2 separate regions of the Homo sapiens genome follow, and region 2 is linked to region 1. The links come from fine-mapping of genetic effects on gene expression. A gene starts in region 1. The other region holds a variant in brackets. All regions are shown on one strand. Distances are from middle to middle.

Region 1 (11,971 bases):
CTTCGACAAAGTATAATCATAATTAATCAGGTAGACAAGATGACCTGGACATTGACCACACTTGTCCTTGCACAACGAAGTCAAGAACAAAGTGCCTTCTGCAACATGGACTGCCACTCACGAAGACCCATCTGGCTACATCCAGAGCTAAGTGCTCAACCTGCAAACAGCTCATACCAACCTTGAGTTCCAATGGAGGCACCATTCTCTGTGGGGACAGACAGATGCTTGATGGCAAAGTGACCGCATTGGAACCGTCTATAATGAAAGAGGCAGCACTTTGTTCTCACTGATACAGATGCTTACTCCGGATATGAATTTACCATACCTGCCTGCAGTGCTCTATCATGTCCACCATCCAGGAATTCACGGAATTCCTACTGATTGTCATCGTATTCCCCACCAAATTACTTCTGACCAAAGAACTCATTTACAGCAAACAAAGCACAACAGAAGGCTAATGTTCAAGATATTAACTGGTCTAACTATGTTCACCAACAACCTGCAGCAGCTAGCCTGAGAAAATAATGGAGTGGCATTTTGCAGACTCAATTATGCTGCCAGCTGGGTATCAGCACTTTAAGGGCTGGACTAGTAGCCTCCAGGATATGGCATGCTATACATCAGTGAATAGTGCTGTTTCTCCCATTGCCACGATTCACGGGAATCAGCGGTGGAAATGGGAGTGGCTCTTCTATTACCCTTAGTGATCCGCTAGTGAAATTTTTGCTTCCCATCCTTGAAACATCGGACTCTTGCTGGCCTAGAGGTCTTGGTTACCAAGAAAGAAATGCTTGTACCAGGGGAAAAAGCAATAGTTCCATTAAACTGGAAGTTGACTGCCACTTGGCCACTTTGGGTTCCTCATGCCAACAAATGAACAGGCAAAGAAGGCGATTACTATACTTGCTGGGGTAAGTGATCCTGACTATTAAGGGGAAATCAGATAGCTACTACACTATAGGGATAAGGAAGAGTATGTCTGGAAAGCAGAAGATCCTCTAGTGCACCTCTCAGTATTCCCTTACCTTGTGATTAAAGTTAATTGAAAACTATAATAACCAAATATAGGAAACTACTAAGGCAAGTAGTCCCCACCAAGCAAAGACCCATTACCAACTGAGAACCAAGGAATACAGAATGGGTAGTTGAAGAAGGCAGTTATAAAGTACAAACTATGATCACATGACCAATTGAAAAACAAGAACTGTAATAGCTATAAGTCTTTCTTGCTTTTTAAAATTTGTATATAAACCAAGTTTGGGTTTTTCCTTTTATTTGGTCCCTCTCCGATACATTACAGTATTACCAAGGAGGACATGATTCAGCAAGAAGAGAAATGAGCATCACCCAAAGACGAATAAAGATAATTTGTACCTGCTCTTTTGGGGAAGGGGTCAGTGTATACTCAGCAGTAAGAGAAATAGGCAAAAGCATGATTCCGCTATTGCCTTTATTTGGACACAAATAAGGTAAAAATTAGACACAAAAGGACAAATGTTATATGATTCCATTTATATGAGGTACCTAAAATAGTCAAGAAACAGAAAGTAGAATAGTGGCTATCAGGGATTAGGAGAAGAGAAGTAATGGAAAGTTACGGATTAATGAGTATAGAATTTTAGTCTGGATAGATGAAAAAGCTCTGGAGATGGATAGTGGTGACGACTGCACAACAGTCTAAATGCATTTAATGCCAATGAATTATTCACTTAATAATGGTTAGCATGGCAAAGTTTGTAATGTGTATTTTACTTCAATAAAAAAGCTGAAAAAAATCATTTCTATAATCAGAATTTTTAAAACAAACTTTTTCAAATATCATACAAACAGAAATAGAACAGAAGGAAGAAGAAAATGTAATCATTGCTACTAACCTGAAACGGACGCCATTCTTTTTCTTTCCAAATTTGTTTCTAAAATAATCCAAATTTCTTTCTAAAAATAAAAGCACAACAGTGACAACAAGTTTTTAAAAATAGTACTATTAATGATGTTCACTCAACAGTAATCTGTCATTCCTAAGCACGGAAAATGTTAGAAAGTAAATTATATATTGCAGTGACCTTTCAAATAAGAACCACATGGTTCTTTTGACACTAATTTTTTATGGAAAACTCTATATTTCAGCTTAATAACCCACAACACTCAGAACGACTAACTCTCTAGATTTCAGAGAAGTGTCCAAAGTCACATAAACGTATACATGACAAATACAGTAGCAATGACACTCAGCAAACATCCACAAGATACAAAGTGATGTAACAAAAAACAGCAAACATTCAACAGGTCTAGCACCAATTGCTATGTGACTAAATTACTATGTTAGGCAAAGTTGCATATGCTGTTCCTCCAAGCCTCTTTCCCTACCTGTAAAACTGGGAGGATGGCAATCTTATAAATAAGTTGGATAGATTCAAATGTACCAGATTAAGCAAAATACATCAACATAAATAATAAAATTAATCATCTAACATTTTATTGAGCCCTTGCGTTAAAGAATTACAATATAAGCCCAATCTTAAAAGAGAAACTGGTATTCTACAGAAAAGCTAGATTTTCTAAGTTAGAGGTGGGGGGAGGGGAAAATGGTTTGTAATGATTTCTAAGTATCTATGAATGACTAAAACCTAAGCATGCATATGGACAAGTGGAAAATGGGGCTGGAGAGTAGAAACTTTAAATTCCCCATAATCCTAAAAACACCTCTTCTATCTCTCTAATATGGACATTTTCTAAAACTAAGATGCTCTCCAAAAGTCACTTCTGCAACACCTATCCTTAGACTGCTGACCTTACGCCCTTTCTACACAGAATTCTGAAGCCACCACTAGGCCGGAAAGATAGGCTGACTCTTTTTTGCCTTGCTAAAGAATGTGGAATAACCACACCATTAAAAGAAGGCTAAATAGGAGAGTAAACCAAGGATTTCTAATTCTTGATCTATACAAACATCTCTTCACGTAATGAAAATGTAACATTCCTTCCATAGACTGTAAGGTCCTTTAGCAGGGCTGGGGTTCAATCTCTTCACCTTTGTATCCGCACAGCCCAGGAAAATGCCTTGATGTAGTGAGGGCTCAGGTTTGCTAAGGTAGCAGGGGCTGTTTCTACCCTTATGAAAAGACACAGTCTATATCCAATTCTCCCCCACGATTTTAAATGACTCCTTTGATTATGCGGTTAAAAGACTGCTCCTTCCCAAAATGATGTGATTTAACAGCAAAAGATATCTCAACATAAAATGTATCCAGAAATTGAACTACAGCAGGTCTGTCACTCAGCAGTATAAGCTAGGCATCCACAGGAAGAATGTTACAGGGTGACAGCCAGTCATCAATGTTGGAGGAAACGCCACTGAGATACCATAGGCTAAATCCTCTCTCTCCCCGCCACCTGCATTTAGAGGCAATAGTAATTTAATATTAATAACGCCCGCCCTTCCGCTACTGTGAAGCAGGGGGTGGAAGAAGCATCCCCAGTAGTATTTACCAACAAATGGCAGCTGCTAATAAACAGGCTTTGGTGGCCAATCCTCCTGCATGGAAAAGAATGGGGAGATCAGAAGACCGGTCAGCAGGCGAACGTGCCCCTAAAGGCCCGAGTTCTCAGAGCAGGGCAGTGATTAACTTTCCGGTTTCTCCTCCGCCAATGTGTGGGCGAAAGGAAGTGATCCGCTACAGACCGGCCTCGCCCTGCAGCAGGAAAGGGAAGGATGAAACAAAAAGCGCACACCCTTGACCCTTCAAAGCTGTAACAGTAGTTATCCCAGAGCCTCTCCCCACCGAGAAGCCCGGTCTAACTCTCCGGTGTTTGACTGTCCGGTGTCCGACTGTCCTGTGTCCGACTCTCCGATCTCCGACTCTCGGATCTCCGACACCAAAGCACCCAGGCCTCGAGCAGATCTTTCCGCTACTCGGGAGTAAAATCTTCCCGCCAGCCAGCTGAGAGCATCCACCCTTCCGGGTCGGTCCGTTCAGCCAATCACAGATAACTCCCTTCTCTAATTGGTCAAGGGGTGTGGTCACCATGCGCGTCACCGAACAACATTACGAGTTATTGGTTGAGATTGGAAGCAGGTTTCGCCAATAGGAAGCGCTCTTAAAGCGGCAGTGAGGGTGGCTGCGTGTTTCCGGAAGACGTGGCGGCTCTCGCCTGGGCTGTTTCCCGGCTTCATTTCTCCCGACTCAGCTTCCCACCCTGGGCTTTCCGAGGTGCTGTCGCCGCTGTCCCCACCACTGCAGCCATGATCTCCTTAACGGACACGCAGAGTAAGCACCTGCTCCGGGGCCCCCGCCTCGAGCCGCGCACACCCATCGCCCGGCTGGGTCTCGCCCCTCCGCCGGGGTCAATGAATGAAGCTCTGGGTTGGGGGCGGTGGCCTGCGAGACAGAGCTAGGGCTGCTGGGACCCTAAGGGGCTGCCTTCGGGATGCCGGGGCTAGACTTGGACTGGCGGACCTGACCTGGGAGAAGAGTCTGTGGGGCAGGGTGGGACGCCCTATGTTGGGAGGGGAGCTTTAGCCCAGAGTCTGTCTCATTCCAGGGTCGCGCTGATCTCCTCATCCCCAGTGAGATGGGCGCTTTGTTCTAGGGGCTTGCCACAAGAGAAAGTTTGCGTGGTGCCCGCGGCCCACTCTCGGGATCGTTTATGCGCATGACACACTTCGGGTCCTCTACAAGTCCCTGGCTGGCTGGTTATTTGGGAGGCGGTATTTTAAATGTCACCTACAGTAGGCTCTTTTTGAAAATGTCCTTACGCTTAAATGTGGCATTTTGAATATTCGCTTTTTGCCAGTACTGTAAGCAACCTTTTAGAAGTCTCTTGAAACATTCTCACTTTTCTACCTGCTAAAGTTTCAAGCAGTAGAGAAAAGCCACTTTGTGTGCCATTAAAGGATATATTTCGTTAGTATTGTATATTGTGCTTTGTGGCTTGTTTTATTATTTTAGCATCGCTCTCTGCCTGCCACAGAGTTCTCCAGGCCTATTTCATCTCTAAAGCTAGCATTGATATCGGTTTCCTTTTCTTTCATTATAATATTTCCACTTTCCTACTGCTTTTTGTTAATATTAATAATTTTTGTATTTATGTCTGCCCAAGCTCTGTACCTCATATTTTGATGTTCATAAGAGTCTCTTTTTGTCTCACTTTGCTTTATCTGCCACGCCTTTCATTTCACTCCAGTTAACTCAGATTTTCAATATTTTAAGACTTAAACAGTGAATTGAAGTGAAAAATAGAAGTTTATTTAAAATGCCCTATTTTAAAGTGGAGTCTTCTTGTGGAGATTCAAGTCATGGCAGACCAACTTCACAGAGCTTCTAAGGCCTCCTACACACACTGCCACCCCCCAATCAGGCTGTCTTCCCTCCTGAGGCTGGACTGGGGCTGCCTCTTGGGGCCACCTGCCCCAAGGTTGCCGCCCACTTTGGTCCATTGGCCTGGCCTGTTCTGATCAAAGAAAATAAAAGTGTAGTCTTGAGGGGATAGGAATCTAGTGTAATAATAATTACTGGCAATTATATAAAGGTATTTTCTTTCAGTTAACCATGTGCTTTCATGTGAATCATTATGCATAATTCTTATAAGAGCCCTGTAAGGCTCACAGAAGCATGCCCCTTTCATAAGTTAAATGAGGCACAAAAGAAATTGAGTGCATGGTCAAAGAAAAAGTGACAGAAACAAAACTTGATCCCAGGTGTGCTGGCTCAGAAACCTTTTGCACTGTACCCCACTATCACCTAAGAAGACTTGATATAAACTTTATTTGAGATCTGAGAATAATCTGTGCATAGAAATTATATTTTTGAAGACTTAATATAGTGATGAGTGCCTGCTTTATAAAAACAAGAGAGTGGGTTTGGACTATGGGCATTCTCCCTGAGAAGCATTCTCCTCACTTCATTAAATTTTGTGAGGGCAATGAAATTTTACTCTTTGCTGTTCACTTGTCACATGTTTTAGGTGAAACAGTGGATTGAAACATAAAACGATTAGTGAACCAAATGCATTTTGGATTTCAAATTGTGTTTGTGTGTGAGTGTGTTTAACTGCAGGGATTGGCCATCATTCAAGTGATTTGTCAGGATTATTCTGGGATTTTGGTTTTTAGAGAGTGGCCAAGCACTGCTCAGAGTAGAATAAATGGAAATTCATGATTATTTTAAGGCATTCTAGGACTTTCCTCACCGCCCCAAAAAAGACAAGACTTATTCAGAGGGGCGGAGGAGGGGCATGCTGCCTCTAAATCTTCATTTCATCACATTGTCTAAAAGCCTAGTGTGATAATTGCATTCTCCAGTACAGTTAATGTTCAATTGAATTCTTGCTTGACTTCTGTTTTTCAAAGGGTATGGTAAGAGAGACAATGCTGCTTTTAAAAAATTGTGAATAAGATATCAAAATGCTAACAGTGTTTGCCATTAGATTATGCGTGTCTTTCCTTATACAATTTCCACAGTATGCTCCTTATGTTAGACAGATTCGTTTTATTAAATTGTTTTTATATTTTTTTTAACTTGTGGACAGTTTTTTAAACATGTGGGAGGAGTGAAGGAAGATAAGTTTGTTTTACTGGATATGATTCCGATGGGAAGAAGGCAGCTCTATGCAAGGCTTTTGATAGCCAGAGGGCTTATGAATGCATACGGATAGGGAAAAGGGGGATCCTGGAGGTGAGAAAAAGGCACAATGAGGCCAATTTGAGACTTTTGACCAGTGTGGATCAGGAGCTACTTGGCAATGTCATTGCCAGTACCAGTTGTGGCAAAGATGTTTTGGGCAATGTCTCCCGCTGGACTGTACTGGATAAAGTAGTGGAATATTTTGGTTCCCATGTTGTAGTTGTAGGACCATTGTCTGTGGAGTGAGAAGACTGGTTGAATGCTGACTTCACAGACTGTTGTACCTGCCTCCATACCACCAGCACCCACACACACATTTTTGCTGCTTCTATGATCAAGAACAAGTTACTGAATTACCTCTAGGTCCATGGTTGCACATATGAACCATAGGACCAGTGCTACCTTTTACCTCACAATTTTGTTAAAGAAATTATAAAATTTTTGTATAAACACTTCATAACACGGTAAACCATACTCAGAGATTGGCCTTTTTGACCGCAGTTAATTTTTAATAGTTCTACTTGGCTATGTTAGATAACAAGCTAATATTAAACTTGAATCCCCTAAAAGATGCGTCCCCCAGAAGTTCAGAATACTCCAGTGTCCTTGAGTTTCATGTAACCAAACACCTTTAACCTAAAAAATAAAAATTCTGTGGGAAGAGGTATGGCATTAATGGTTAAGCACATGAGCTTTGGATTCAAAAGACCTTGGTTCGAATGCTTATCTAGAAGTGTGGCTTTAGGCAACTTAAGTCAACTCTCTAAACTTCAATTTCCTCCATCTTTAAAAAGATGTAATTATACCTGCATTCCAGTAGTATTGGAAGTATTAAGTTATATATAAGGTATGTGAAGCACTTCATAAGGCCTAATTCGTGGTAAATTCTCAGTACATAGTAGGTGTCTTTCCATATACCTTCCTTTCTAAAAACATCTCAGAATTTTTATGTAATCATCAAGGTTATTTGTGAAATGATAGAAATTAGTCATCTTCAACTAACAAAGCTGCCGATGTTTAATCCTAACTACTAAATAGTTATTTAATAGAATTTTACTTGCTCTTTTGTCCATATTTTCCTCTATGAAATTATGTCCACTATCCAAATAGTTAATTTGGTAAATTCTCTTAAGGCCTTTGATCATGAAAGTATCAGCCTCAAATTTTCATAGGAATGTGTGTTGAATTCACTTAACTGGTGTATTTATAGACCAGGTACCTGAATTATTTTAGACTAACTTTGGGAACAAAAGGTGTCTGCAATGGAAGACACTAGTTATCAGGAAATTGAGCAGGTGGGGAATGTAGAAAAAGCTAAAGTTGATAAAAGTTTTCAAGTTATCAGAACATTTTATATGACTTAAGAGTTTTTTAAGTAGCTGTGACCTAGATTTTAGCTTTCTGGAGCTGAGGCAAAAAAGTTAAGCAATAGATCAGAAATCAGTGATAGGGTATTTTAAATTGTGCTTCTAAAAATACGGTGGCTTCTACTCTGACTCATCTGTATGCAGATTGTGCTTCTAACTAAACTACGGATTAATGGCTATTTTCTAGAATCAAAACTAAAATGATCAAGGAGGTAACTTAGTGAATTGTGCTTTATAACATTAATAGAAGAGTACATCTGTCACCTTAGAAGTTAAGACTTTTCATACTAAAAAAATAAGACCTAGAGAATGCACAGTCAATAAAAGTATTAATTTTATATACAAGATAAACATAGACTTTAAAGCTTACACCTCGTCTACCACTGTATATTCAGTACCTGGAACAGTTCCTTGCATCTGGCAGTTGATCAACAATTCTTTGTTTTTTAATGAAACTAATGAAACATGAAAAACCTAGAATATTAATATTAGGTAAAACAGTATTCTTTGAAACTTCGGAGAGGTGATTTTAGGACTCTAGACCAAATATTTAAGTAGATTTATAGTTTAGGTAAATTTGTAGATAAGTCCATAATAAGTAATCAAGAAATTAAAAGTGATGCCTGACCTTCTGAAAATTTGGTTTTGAGAATACTGGTACCATGATTTTCGAAATATTTCTTGTTGCCATTGTGACAAGCAGTATATAATTGGATAAAGGATATTGATTGTGCGGACCTACCATAACATTTCTAATGCAGTAAAGAAGGAATCAATTTTAAGAGGAAGAAAGAACTACAGATATTGTGCATTTAAATAATAATTATAGAATGTGAAAGGAGATAAGTAATTAAGGAAACCTATACATTTATGTCTGATGCGAGAGAGCTTTTCAGGAGGAAAAAAACAAATTACATATTAAAACCAAAGGTTTAGAATCCCGATTTATCTTTTTTATTATAGCTATGTCTGAGAAATGCTATCTCCCATATAAGGCTTAGAAATTTTCATTCATGTTTTAAATTTTGAAATAATTTGCTGATAATTAATTTGTTATAAGAGCTAAATAAATGTCATTATGAAGTTAACCTGCAATGTTGGGTACCTGTTTTCTTATACCTATGAAAGGAAAACTGGAAAATTTTCTTAGTTTACAGGGATGTTAATGTGACTTTAATTTTTCTCTACCCTTAACCATATACCTTATATTGCAGAAATTGGAATGGGATTAACAGGATTTGGAGTGTTTTTCCTGTTCTTTGGAATGATTCTCTTTTTTGACAAAGCACTACTGGCTATTGGAAATGTGAGTTTTTAAATATATATTTTAACTAAATTTATAAGGAAATTTTAACTACGAATGAATTATTATCTGCTATTAAATTTGGGGAAAATAATTCACTATTACTCATAAGTAATTCCTGTTACATTCTCTATTTCCATCAGGAATGAAACCTGTCAGCTTTCTGTTTAAATAAAAGGTAAACACTTAATGAGGTTTTCTAATTCCATAACTACTCTGTTAAGTGTTTGTCATGAGATTTACAATAGATTAAATGAAGGCTGCCTCTAAATAGGAGTTCAAAATAGATGACTTGATAGTTTCATGTCTTGATAAATCACTAAAGTATTTTTACTTTAAACATCCAAGACTTCACATTTGATTCAGCTGCATAAGATAGATTTTTTTAACCTTTTTAAAAATATATATTTCTATGTTAATGGTTGACTTGCTTAGAAAGGGATCTATGTTGTTTATTTGGAATGTGTACTATGCTATTCATGTGTGGAGGTTATGATCCAGAAATAAATAATAACCCTTCTAAGGTAGTGAAGACACTGTATGTGTGTGTGTGTGTATATATATATATACACACACACATATATATTTGGGCTTTTAACTGGAAATGGGAAAAGATAAAGAATAGCAAAATTGTTCAAAATTGATGTCTTAATAAATGATAATAGCATTAGTATCCTAGAATATGAAGCTTAACCATTAGGCTTAATATGTATTTGTGCGAAATATTTTTCACTAAAGAATGTTAATGGGGAGGGCAAGTATTTGGAAAGAAAACCTGGGGAAAGCAAGCTCTTAATCCATCACCATTTCTTGTCCACAGAATACATTCAAAATATTTGAAAACACATGGTTGTATTTTTATTTCTGCTGCCACCAGATATTCTAGAATTTATAAAACTAGAATCTTCTTGGCTTCACGTTGTTTCTTCTGCTATCAACTTAGCCATGTCAATATTTCTCCCATCCATAGAAACTCCTGTAGCCTATGATGAATATTTCAGAACCAAGAGGAATACCCTTGGGTGACATATTTATGGGCAGCTTTCCTCTTTATGCCTTGCCAACTCATCTGCTTGACTAAGCCTTCCTCATCCAGCTAAAACTAGGAAAACTACTGCAGACACAGATGCCCCTTGGTAACGTCTAATCTTTCTTTGTTTCTCTTTTTCTCCATTTAATCAAGATAGAAGAGGAATGAGACAAGTGGAACAAAGCTACAACTTTAAAATGCATAACCCACTCCTTGGTTCTGCTGCTTGGTTGTACATTACAGTTCTGTCTGGCCAGTTGCCCACATTAAAAGCCAAACAAATGTGCTTCTTTTTTTATATTTAGCTTTGACTTTACGTTTAAAATTTATGCATTGTGTTTAATTACCTTTTCCGTGTTGTATTTTCTTTCTCTTTTAGGTTTTATTTGTAGCCGGCTTGGCTTTTGTAATTGGTTTAGAAAGAACATTCAGATTCTTCTTCCAAAAACATAAAATGAAAGCTACAGGTTTTTTTCTGGGTGGTGTATTTGTAGTCCTTATTGGTTGGCCTTTGATAGGCATGATCTTCGAAATTTATGGATTTTTTCTCTTGTTCAGGTAAGGCATATTATTGTCTCTTTCAGTAAATCAGTGTGTCAGATAGTTAGTACAAAAACTCAGATATTTGCATCAGTTGGAGTAAGATGATGATCATTTCCTTAAATGGAATTTTATTTAGGTTGAATCTTATAGATTTAGATGAAGCAACTATAAAAATGTTTTATCACATGTGAATGATTGCCTAATGGTATAAATTATCTTGTTTTGTCAGCACAATAAAGTTTATTTTATTGGCATTTTAAGGCACCATCTTTATGTTGGATATTTGTATCAACTAAATAGTGGTAGGTAGGTCGGTCGATCGATCAATCGGTAGGTAGGTAGGTAGATAGATAGATAGATAGATAGATAGATAGATCCAGCATTTTGGTGTGTAGAATCTTATACTTCATAGCTACTGCTACTTGATGGAAATTTATTTAGCACATATACGTATTAGAAGATTGTTTACCAAATACACTACTATGGGAGATTTTGAGCAGGTAATATTTTGTAAATGCCAGTTAGCAGATAAACAATAGTATGTGTATATATCTATATGAAAATACCTTTGGCCAGGTGCGGTGGCTCACACCTGTAATCCCAGCACTTTGGGAGGCCGAGGTGGGCGGATCACCTGAGGTCAGGAGGTCAAGACCAGCCTGGCCAGCATGATGAAACCCCGTCTCTACTAAAAATTCAAAAATTAGCTGGCCATGCTGGCAGGCGCCTGTAATCCTAGCTACTCGGGAGGCTGAGGCAGGCGAATTGTTTGAACCTGGGAGGCGGAAGTTGCAGTGAGCCGATCACACCATTGCACTCCAGCCTAGGCAATAGAGCGAGACTCTGTCTCAAAAAAAAAAAAAAAAAAAAAAAAAAAACAGAAAAGAAAATAACTTTAAGTAGGGTTGAGCTTAATTATTTATTCCAGAAATGCATATCCTTTGTCTTCTGTCTGCCAGGCACTGTATTACCCACAGGAGACATAAAAATAAATTAAGTACCAAATCTGCTTTAGAAAATCTCTCATTTCTATTATGGAAAGTAGACTCTAAAAATACCAATAGGATATAGTCATAATGCCATTATAAATGTGTATGCAGAA
Region 2 (11,971 bases), 69 kb before region 1:
GCAGACGGCTGGGGCAAAAGAAAGTTCTTTACAGACATCTGATGCTGTAACTATTAGTCAACTGACAAAAATTTAGATAATTTCAAATCACAACACAGCCAGCTGATGTGTCCATTTAAATAAATATTTCTTCTTATTGAGAAAAAAAAAGCTTTTTCCTTTGTGAATGCAATTTCACGGCCAAAAGAATAACTATTTTTGTTGTTATATCAAATATGTTTTCTTAACTGCTCTTTTGCTAAATGTAATCTACGCACTAAATGGCCTGACTTGAATCAAGCCAGAAATTTTTTAGACTTGTATCTCCAAAGTTTGAAGATGAAATGAGAATGTTTCTTTTCCTTTGTAGCTTGCTGCTTTTGGTCAAGCATTCTCAATGTCCACCATTGTTAGCATAAATAAACTGAGTAAAGATATTTTGACAGCTAAAACTTTAAAATCTCATGTAAACTTGAATATATTTTCAAAATTAAAAGGGAAAATTTACTTAAATGTTCATATACATATGTTTGGGGTTAGTTTAAACTTAAAAAAATTAATGTGTACTGCAATAATATTTGAAACAACAAATGTGTTTCATTTTTCTTTCTAAAAGAAGTAAAATTAAGAGATAAAAAATCTTTAATTTCGGTACTGTCCGTCAACTGAAATAAATTAGCCACATTCGATACCATAATTTAACATTTTACTCATTACGAATAAATTATGCTGTACTTTCTTTGCATCTTAATTTATTTTTTAGAAATCACAAGTTATTTTAATCAACAAAAATAGGAGTAGAAAGTGTTGCTTCTTCCTTTTTCTTTAGTATAATAACTAGCCTGAAAACAGTTTTTTTTTTTTTTAATTTTTTTTGAGACAGGGTCTCACTCTGTCACCTAAGCTGGAGTGAAATGGTACAATCATAGCTCACTGCAGCCTTGCCCTCCTGGGCTAAGGTGATCCTCCCATCTCAGCTTCTGGAGTAGCTGAGACCACAGGCATGCACCACCATGCCTGGCTAATTTTGTGTTTTTTATAGAGACGAACTTTTGCCATATTGCCGAGTTTGGTCTCAAACTCCTGGACTCAAGCGATCCACCAGTCTCAGCCTCCCTCCCAAAGTGTTGAAATTACAGGTGTGAACCACCATATCTGGCCTGATTTTATTTAATTATGAAAAAAAAATCTGAATTTCCCTGATCTTCAATGTAACTGATGTTAAAATGTTACCTGATGTATTAAATAGAAAATAATTAAGCCTCAGATCATTAAATAATAATTCTTTCAACTGCTGTCACAATTATTTTATATATGGAAATCATAGCAATTAATGAATGAATGCCATGAAACATAAGTACTAATGTTTTATTCAAAAACAGCATGAAAGTTATAAATCTATTTCTTTATAAAGGATACAGAAAAGTACATGCAAATTATACTATTTCGTACTATGAAGGACATCTTTTAGAAGTTTTCATCATGATTCAAAAGTTATAGAAACGAGGTGCGGATAATAAAAAAGGTTTTATATTTGGCTTTGGAATTTGTGTACTTACAACTTAATAAGAGTATTTCCTGTTGATATGGTTTGAAACTTAAATTGAAATATGAAGCTCCATGGTACCGCTTGTGAAGAGCTTAGAAATTTTATAAACCGAGTAAACAGCATTGGAAACCCAGCAGGAAAGCCTCTTATTGTAATAAAGAGCCTGATTCCATTGTTGATGTTTGACTGCTGGAAGCTTTCAGGCCTCACGACTCCCCTGTCCCTTGCTGCCCCACATCTGGGCAGTCTGAGAAGGTTTCAGTATGCCCCTCCCTTGGTGCCCACGTGATTTTCAAGCCATACAAGGACTGGCCTGTATGTGCCAGAACTCTCACCCCAGCTCGATCACCTAATCTCATTAAAAACAGGGCCTGTCACCCTTCTCTGCTCTCCAAGCTATTTTTGGATCAGCTTATAATCCTGTCCTATTCTCCCCAGAAAGCCTCATTATGTAAGTAATAAGCCTTTTCATTCCCTCATGGGGTGAGTGTGTGTGTGTGTGTGTGTGTGTGTGTGTATGTGTGTGTGATCATTAATCTTCACATCCAAATCAAATTTTGGATGGGGGTTCCTTCCTGATACTGTGAGTTCCTTCCTGATACTGTGGGGTGACTGTAACATTTATCTACCTAGAACAACAGAACAACCTGGTCTCAAAATATCATATCAAACTATTGAGAAAGGAACAGCAGTATCTCATAAGGCAAATTCATGTTTCACAATTGTAGATTCAGCCATACTATGAAGCCTCGGTCTTTATAAGATTGTGCTTACTATGTTAATTATAAAGACTTAAGAAACATTTATTGAATAAATATTACTTAAATTGCTGTGCTAAGTGCTGGGATTAGGGCCACAAGCAAGAAAATCAAAGGTGAATAAAATACATTCCCTTTCTCAAAGAAGCCTAATAAGGACACACCAACTTTAACACAAGAAACACTGCTCAATGCAGTAAAGTACTACAGATTTGGCCATTTCTCCCTGAGAATGGTGGGTGGCATCTGAGCTTACCATTCTTAGACCCATAGATTTCTATAGGCAGAGCAAGAAAGCCTGTAATGAAGGAAACCAAAATTCTTTTTTTTTTTTTTTTTTTGAGACAAGGTTTTACCCTTTCTCTCAGGCTGGAGAGCAGTGGTGCGATCAAGGCTCACTGCAGCCTCAACCTCCCCAGTCCCAGGTGATCCTTCTACCTCAGCCTCTGGAGTAGCTAGGACCACAGGTACTTGCCACCATGCCCAGCTAATTTTTGTATTTTTTGTAGAGATGAGGTTTGGTCATGTGGCCCAGGCTGGTCTTGAACTTCTGGGCTCAGGCGATCTGTCCACCTCAGCCTCTCAAAGTCCCGGGATTACAGGCGTGAGCAACCAAGCCCTGCCTGAGACAAGAATTTTTGATGCATTCAGGGAACTGGGAATGTTCCAGAAGCAGAAGTGGTAGAAAGGCAGAGGAACCACATCTCCCTTTTATAAGATAACTCTTACGGCAGCATGGAGGATAAGTTTAAAGACAGTGAATGGAGGAACAAAGACCAATCAGGAACTCATTTTAATAGTCTAAGTGGGCGAAGAAGACCAAAAATAGCGCAGTAACAGTCAAAACTGAAATGAAGGAACTGGGAAACACTTTAGAATTGGTAGGACTTGAGAAACTACACTTTGAAGTTGAGGGAATATGGTGTAAGAAATGCATTCAGTTTTCTAAATGGTATAAGTTTAATATTTATAAAACAAACATGGTATATCATGGGGTTAAATGTGATTTTTCTGGTTAATTCAGCTCCAAAAGCTTAAGAACAGTATAATAGGCGTCAAGTTGACCAATGCCTTCAACGCAAGGTACTAGACCACACAGGCAACGCGTGCTAAAAGACTATAAAATTGGTTTTGCCAGCATTAGTGCATCACATTCACTCCCTGCTCCAACATGCTCACGAAGCATATGGGGAAGAGGAAGGGAAAGTGTTTCACCCCACCACCACCAATGCCCTGTCCGCAGCACAAGTGAGGAGGACGTTAAGGGAACCATTTAGAGAGCTTTACAGGTAGCCCCTGGAGTCCGAATGATGCAGAAACTGATACTTCATTCCACTGAAGACACAGAGGTGTGACTAGGTAGACATTCGGACAGCAGAAAAGAGAGATGCTCTGTTGGCTTGATGTGCACTTTCAGAGTCTAGTGGGGACAAAGGATGAGTGAGTTTCCCAGAAGCCCATTGTGGACCCTGTTTCATCTTAAAAGGGACTGAATCTGGAGAAGGAAAGGCCCAGAACCTGTAGGTGAGAGATCCCCAGTGATGTGGAGATTCTGATGTACCCATAAAAGCACCCCAGCAGAGAATCAACATTTGGAATCAGCCACACCATGAAAACAGCGATGCTAGATTATAACTAATGTTTGTGCCGGCAAATGTTGAACAACTGGCTGTCTGAAAAAACTGCATGTATAAATATATGTGTGTGTGTGTATGTATATATACATAGGTTTATTATAAATTTTATTGAAAGGTGTATAGCAAATATTTTACAAATAATAATATGCAATACTCTTTATTGTAAATTCCATATAGCCAGCTGATTCTACAGAATCCTTTCATTGATTTTTGCTTGTATTACCCAAACTATGACAGCAATTGATGAGTGTAGTTTGAATGTTGATTGACTTTTCTATTTACATTAACTAGTAAGATGGAAGTGAAACAAAGGAACAATAGGTTGCAATTTCACTTGTTTGTCTGATATTAGTGAGTTCTTTGCTAAATTGAATAGCAGCTCTCTGAAAAAAGAATTTCTTCAGTTTTTTTGTGCTATTCACAGTGTACTACAATCTACCACAACAGACATGACACTCTTTTAATTTCATTATTAACATTCTCTCCATCAGTTTTTTTAAATGAGTCTCCATCTATTTTGTGTTTCTTTAACTTTTAAGTTCAGGGGTACATGTACAGGATGTGAAGGTTTGTTACATAGGTAAACATGTGTCATGGGGGGTTTGTTGTACTGATTATTTCATCACCCAGGTATTAAGCCCAGTATCCATTAATTACTTTTCCTGATCCTCTCCCTCCTCCTACCTCCACCCTCAGACAGGCCCAGTGTGTGATGTTTCCCTCTGTGTGTCCATGCTGTTCTCATCATTTAGCTCCCACTTATAAGTGAGAACATACGGTATTTGGTTTTCTGTTCCTGTGTTAGTTTGCTAAGGATAATGGCCTCCAGCTCCATCCATGTCAGTGTAAAGGGCATAATTTGATTCCTTTTTATGGCTGCATAGTATTCCATGGTGTATATGTACCACATTGTCTTTATCCAGTCTATCATTGATGGGCATTTGGGTTGATCCCATGTCTTTGCTATTGTCCACCACCTTTTTAACTCTAAAAAATCAACAATAAAATAAATCAAACTCTGGTTTGTATAATCTGCCATTTTCCATGGTGTAAATACTCCTATTACGGCCAATTTCAAGATCAACATGACGTCGCTGAATGAGGCAGTAGGAAGAAATGTATAGTAGCCCACCATTATATTTTTACCTGTAGATACAATAGATGTAAATAACCTCAAGAGTAGAGATAATAGCAAAAGAGTTAGGAAATAAGAAGTTTTGAATATTTATTACCTTTGTCTTAATATAACTTATTTGATTATGTTTATACAATTTAGTGTTTAACAATAGCTGTGTTAACAATCAGCTCACACAAATCCTAAAATTTTAACAATCAGCTCTCACAGATTCACAGTTGTACCACACCACTGATTCATAGATATAGGAAGACAGCCTGCGGTATGGCAAGAATGACACCACGGCCATGATGACTGATGTTGGATTCCTGCATACTAAGGTGTTCTGCAGCAAGGTCCTTAAACAATGCCCATAGCATAGATAACCCTTCAAAAGAAACAAAGCTTGTAACTTAGATAATTCTCTCATTAAGATTCTTATCTAGACTCCCCAGTGTTCATGAGTTTTGCAAGAAAGTCTGAGACATGATCAGCTGTACATCTTTTATCCTAAAAGCTTACATAATTTCTGGAGGGCAGGTGTGGGGATGCACTGTAACAGAATCATCATTTCTGTGTGTAAGTCCCTATTAAATACCTCTTTCTGAGAAACTGGATTTGTCAGTTTTTCTTTGGCCTCTCAGCTCTCTCAGCCTTTGGGGGTAGGTTTGCATATATATGCTCATACAGGAACAACAGTGAGGCTCTTTCCTCTCCTTACTCCTTACCCACCCTCCAATCTTAAAGCCCCTGAAAACATCAGCTCTTAGTTAGGAGAAGAGCTGGAGCAAAAAAGCAACAAGAAATCAATTTGCGTTGCCTGTAGTTAGGTGAGGCTTTAATTGGATGCGTGTCTGGAGTTTTGATAATAGGTAGTACCAGACTTTTTATTACCTGAGAATGATCAGATAAGCTAAATTAATAAGAATTTAGAGGAGAAAAATACATTCACAGGAAAAGCGTTGAGAAATAAAAATGTTTGCTTTAATTTCTTCCCTATAAAGTCCAGCTTGTTCAGTAAATCAGTTATATGAACTAACAAAACAAAGAAGAGGTTTCGAGTGCAAGATGAATCCAGGCTGTACTTACAGCGAATTGGCAAAAACCAAGATAAAAATGAGAAGATATCCAAGATGTTTCAGAAATTTCAGGCTTGAAGATTCAGAGTAGATTGCATGAGAGATAGACATTTGGGAGTTAAAAGCATAATAGGCTTGTTAAGGTTATGATCATAGATAAAATCCTTTAGACAGAGAAACATAGTCTATTCAACAGGGCACAGGCAGGCAACTTAACCATTAATCCTACTAAGAGGCACGCACTATGCTAGGAAGTTTAAATATGTTGCCTCACACATGCATCAAAACAACTCTACAAAGTAGATCTTATACCCGTCTTGCCAATGAGGAAACTAGGGTTCAGATGAGGTAAATAACTCACTGAATGGTCACACAACAAAGAAATGCTGGTGCCACATTTGAACCTAGGTCATCTGACTCAAAAGCTATTAATCACCAACTATGAAATGTCATTATTCATTCCCAATTTTTGCAGTTGAAAATTAACCTCAATACTCCTATTCTAGGCATTTCTGATATCAACTTGAAGAAGAATGGAAGACTAGATTTTGATGGTAGTTTGAAAGTTGGGGATGGCCTTCAAGAGATTAGGTGGGTATGGGAATCAGATGTAACAACATTATGGAGAGAAATAGAAGAAGATAGCTTTATCTCCTTCAGTTTTTCCACATGAATCTTGAACTCCCCAACCACTTTTCTTTCTTTCTTCCCTTTTACCATCTCCTGTATTTCCCATGCTCATTCCTGCTGCTAAGCCTTTGGTTCTTGGGATATTTCCCACATGACTTGCCACATCTTCTTCTGAACCTATCCAAATGCTATGGGCCTTTGAGATTCAATATAAATTCCACTTCTTCTCTGAACCTTTCTTTGCCAAGTCCTGCTTTTCTTTTCCACCCATAAACATACACCATAATATTTAGCAATACACTGGTATTTCTTTGACTCCTCAGAAACAGTCACCAGGTCACTCCTAAGCTTGCTGACCAGAGCTAAAGGGGAGCTGAAGTTCTGTCTTTTCTGCTTCTCTGCTGCTTCCTGGCATTGGGCCTCCCTTATTTCTAGGTGCCCAGTTTTCTTTGCAGTTGCCCTTTCTCCTAACCTGTACCTATTGCTGCCCTCCCTGTGGATAACATGTTTCAAGTTACCTACATCTTACTTTTAACCCACTTTACATCCAGTATATGTATCTAATTTAATCAACATTAAGGTGAGATGCACTGAAAGTTCTTTAACCCTTAGACATTTCTAAAAGTTGGATATTCATGCCAGTGTGGCAGGCAGCTAGGTCTTATCCCTACATCACCTTTGACAAAAAAGCCAGCCTTCACAAGGGGAAGAAAAAAGGAGAGTGTGGAGTCATTACCCCTTTACATTTGAGGAGCCTCCTACTACTTTGCTTCCCCTCCCACAGACGATGATCTCCTTCCGTTTCCCCTGGGAGCTTAAATTCCACTCCATTCTTCCTTCCGACTTCCATAAAGAGGAAACCCCTGTCACAATATACAAGAGGATCCTGACCCTGGACAATGAATCTAAAAATCTTTAGAAGGACTTCAGGGGAGTTTCATGCTCCACCAACTTCCTATTTCGTTGAGCACATTTTTGTTGAATACATACTCCCTACTAAACATTGGAGATACAAAGGGAGACAAAAATAATCCCTGAGATTATGTAAGCAGTTTATGGTGGTGGTGGGGTCAGGCAGTAAGAATTTACAATAAAGTGGGATAAGTCTAAATTTAGAGGATGACAAAGTGCTATAAGAACACACGGAGAGGACACCTAGCTGTCTTGAGGATGTTAGATAAAGTATCTTAAAGGGGAAGCAATGGCTTGATGAAACCAAAGGTTGATGAGTTAGCCAGGGAAAAGTAGTTGGGAAAAAGATATGTGCAAATGCTCAGAAAGAAAATGGCATATCCTGGGATCTGGAAGTGTAGTGTGGCCTGAATGGAACACAGTGTGAGTGAGATAATGTGAAAATAAGCTGAAGCAAGATGAGATCTAAATGGGCTTAAGGAATGTATTTCCTCCTCCTAGAAATGAATGCTTTGTTTGGTTGCTATACTAGTAACAGGAATTAGACACGTTTATTAAACCGCTTACCATTTAACTTGGTAAATCAAAGAACAATGATTTTTACAGGTATCAGTAAATGCCTGTAATTAGATACGTGGTAGGCTTTCCTGTTAATATATAATGGTTATTCTCAGTGTTTAAAGAATTAAAGGGACTCGGGTAATTACCAGTTTTAGAGTGAACCATTTGAGAGATAATACCTTACCATTACAAAACAACTCCTAGGGAAAGTTATATGAGACAGCAAAGGTAATAGTAAATAGTAAAATAATATGAATAGTGAATAATATAGTAAAAACAGTTAAAAATGATTTAGCAATTTCTTAAAAACAATTGACCACGAAAAAAATTCACAGTAAAACCGAGACTGGGAATATTTCATTCAACCCTCACACATGCTGCTATTGACTGGAAATTTAAGAAATGTTCATTTGTTTTGACAAAATGGAAAGCAACTGTACATTCTTCCTGGAAACTTTAGCTGAGGT[C/T]AAAGTTGTAAATGAAAAGGATGATTTTTTAGAGAACAATTCAGTAGTATTGTTTTGCCTTGTCATGAAGAATTTTTGTGCTTCCACAAACAAAAATCTTGGATTGTTAGGTGAACGGTGGCAATCAAGTGGTTTTCAGAAGACTCAAGTTTCTTCATCTACAAAAATGACAGGAGTGGGGTCAGGATGTTCCCGAAGGCTCCTTCTACTCATAAGAGCATAAAATCTGTGCCTCTAATTTCTCGCAGAAACAAATAATGAGAACTTCACACCAATTCATTTATTATATGAATGTTTTGTCCCGTGAGAACACTGGTCTATCTTTAGATATGTAATTTATCAAACTTCTTTGGGCAACCCATCTTCTTTACTTTTTTATTTTTAATTTTTTGGTTTTCTCTTTGTCAAATTTTCATGGAATAACTACATTCAGGTGTAGTAATAGTAACGCAAAGCTCTGAACACCACGAGACAATTCGTTGCTTCCGAAACGCAGCCGGCAGCAGGTACTCGAGATGAGTAGTGTGAGCTCCCGAGCACCCGTAGGTCGGATTATCTGGTAAGGCACCGGAAGTGACCGCCTCGCGGCTGCTTCCTCTCCTGGAGTCCAGAGTCCCGTTGCTCCGCCGCGATATTCAGTAAACCACTGGGAGTCCGGCAGCATGGAGGCAGCGCGCCCTCCCCCGACGGCAGGGAAGTTCGTGGTGGTCGGCGGCGGCATCGCGGGCGTCACTTGTGCGGAGCAGGTAGGGCGGTGCTCAGGCGGTTCCGCCTCTTTCCCCGACCCCAAAGGGGATAGCACTGGAGGCCTTCCTCCCACCCCCTCCCTTTTTCTTCTTCCGGGTTCCTTTTTTGCTGCGCCCTTTTCCGCACTTATTGCTCCCAGATTTTAGAAACTGCTTGGTGGTCCTCAGATGACCTCACTAGCTTTCTCTTAGGCGCAGGGAGGAGTGGGAGGCAAATTATAGCCGAGAAACCAAAGCTGGCTGATCCGTGCTCAGATCCTTGTAATGTCAGAGCAGACATGAGGACTTTGTATTTAGACAAAAAATTCAGCCCCCTTTCTTTTTATTTTTTTTTCTTTTTCTTTGAGACGGAGTCTCACTCTGTCGCCCAGACTGGAGGGCAGTGGTGCGATCTTGGCTTAATGCAAGCTTTGCCTCCCGGGTTCAAGCGATTCTTCTGTTGCGTCAGCCTGTAGCTGGGATTACAGGCGCCAGCCACCACGCCCCGCTAATGTTTGTATTTTTAGTAGAGACGGGCTTTCACCATGTTGGCCAGGCTGGTCTCGAACTCCTGGGCTCAAGCAGTCTGCCCGCTTCCGCCTACCGAAGTGCTGGCATTACAGGCCTGAGCCACAGCACCCGGCCCTCAGCCCCCTTTGTTAATTATCGTAGGTGATTGAGTTTAGTTTCCAGATAGTTGCCAAGTCTTTAGTGCATCTTAACTAATTAATAAAGAATCCCATATGTAAGTTTTCTATACTTCGAACTCCCAAGATAGAAGAAACTTTATTTCTAGTAAAGTTTTGTAAAATAATCAGCGAAGGATTAAATGCATGTAGGGCTTGCTTTCTTGATTATACTGAATAGCCAGACCATATATATTCAGATACATGTGTGTATTCCAAAAAGTTCTACATTATTTTGTTGATATAAAGTAAACATGAGCAATCACTGAAGTCATAAGAAATAGTGGAAGAAACTCAAGTGTTTCCATCGTTGGATGCGTATTTTCCGTTTATTCACTAAGTAAACATATATGATGCAGGCACCGTATTAAGGGCTGAGTGTTCAACTATGAACAGCATGGTATATACCATGCTGGGGACTCACAGCCTGCTGGAAGAGACAATATTACAATATTGTATGTCTATGCAAGAGATATCAACGGTTATCTTAGAGGTGCCTGTGGAGTATGTAGGGAGTGAATTAGGGAAGAGGAAATTTTTTTAATCAAAGAAGGTATTTTTAAAATCTCATTATGAAAGAATGAGTGAAAGTTTACCAAGTATTCAAGAAAAGAATGTCATCTCCAGTGGAAAAGCATGGATCATCAGGGAGCAGTAAAGCTTAAAGCATAGATCATAAGGAGTCTTAGCATGCTGAGAACTTAACAAGAATTTACAAGTAGTCAAATGTTTTTGAGCAGTGGAGTAACTTGATCATATGAAAAGGCTTGAAAGATGATTAGTTACAATGTATTTGTGGCAGAGGCAGCTGGTTTATACGTGAAACTGGAGAGCCAATTCGAAGGTGATTTCAGTAGTATAAAGAAGTTTTGAGGACCTCATCTAGCAATGGAAACAGCAGAGATATAAATTACAGAATATACAGAGGAAAGAAAGATGGAGAGAGTAATGATATTGTCAAATATAGAAAGTTCAAATAAAATGAGACTGAGAAGAATCGCATGGGTGTTGGGCACGATAGCTCACACTTGTAATCTTAGAACTTTGGGAGGCCAAGGTGGGAGGATTGCATGAGTCCAGGAGTTTGAAGCCAGACTGGGCAACATGGCAAGATCCCATCTCCATTAAAAAAAAAATAAATAATCCCTTGGATTTTAAGGATTCATAGATCCCTCAAACATGCTGTTTTAGTGATGGAGTAGGAATAGAAGCCAGATTATTGAGGGTGGTGGTGTCGAGGAACCAGACTTTGAGATAAGAAAATGCTTTCAGGTACAGAGTGAAGAAGACCGAGGTTGTAGCTAAAGGAAAATAATGAAACATTAACAAGTTATACCTCTAAATTTTGTGGAAGCAATTATTAAAATGGCTTTATCGTCCCACAATATGTACTGACTGGAAGAGGCAGAATAGGAGTGCCAGAGCACCTGGGGAAAGTTAGACCAATATTCTAAGTGTTTAATATTGAGGGTTTGCTTTAATTTCATCCCATTGAAGACAAATGAAATATTATTTTAAGATAAATAGAAGTTGGTTTAACTGGTAATTAGGAAGATAGTTTATTCTCATCCTCTGCATTATAACTCTAAATTGGTATAAAAAATAGTTGAAGTAAATAAAGGATATTTCTTTATATCACTTTTCTTGTTCAGGAGTTCTTTGTTAGTGTTTACTGTAAATATTATTTTCTCAGTATCAGAGTTTAATATTATTCACCATTGCCCCATCAAGACCAAGGATAATGGAGACCTTTAGATGAGGAACAGTGGGTTTTTAATTTTCTAGATTAATTACATTATTAAAATTGCATTATTCTCAACCCCAAACCATATATACCAGTACTTAAAGTAATTTGTCCTAATTTTTTTTCTCTC

Evidence for each region. PIP is the estimated chance that this variant, and not a neighbour inherited with it, causes the effect.
Region 2: its variant is fine-mapped to the expression of RECQL in testis (GTEx, PIP 0.95).

What each region holds. Positions count from the first base shown.
Region 1 is chr12:21,497,678-21,509,648 of GRCh38, forward strand. It overlaps RECQL (RecQ like helicase), which reads right to left and starts at 3,958. Exons shown (of 15, transcript NM_002907.4): 1 at 3,493-3,958; 2 at 1,878-1,938. The coding sequence starts at 1,893. It overlaps GOLT1B (golgi transport 1B), which reads left to right and starts at 4,112. Exons shown (of 5, transcript NM_016072.5): 1 at 4,112-4,271; 2 at 9,208-9,299; 3 at 10,706-10,884. The coding sequence starts at 4,247. RefSeq lists enhancers at 3,242-3,311, 3,332-3,381, 3,422-3,611, 3,752-3,811, 3,762-4,469 and 2 more.
Region 2 is chr12:21,428,383-21,440,353 of GRCh38, forward strand. It overlaps PYROXD1 (pyridine nucleotide-disulphide oxidoreductase domain 1), which reads left to right and starts at 9,273. Exons shown (of 12, transcript NM_024854.5): 1 at 9,273-9,432. The coding sequence starts at 9,349. RefSeq lists enhancers at 9,102-9,181, 9,232-9,421. The variant C/T (reference allele first, on the strand shown) is at 8,687.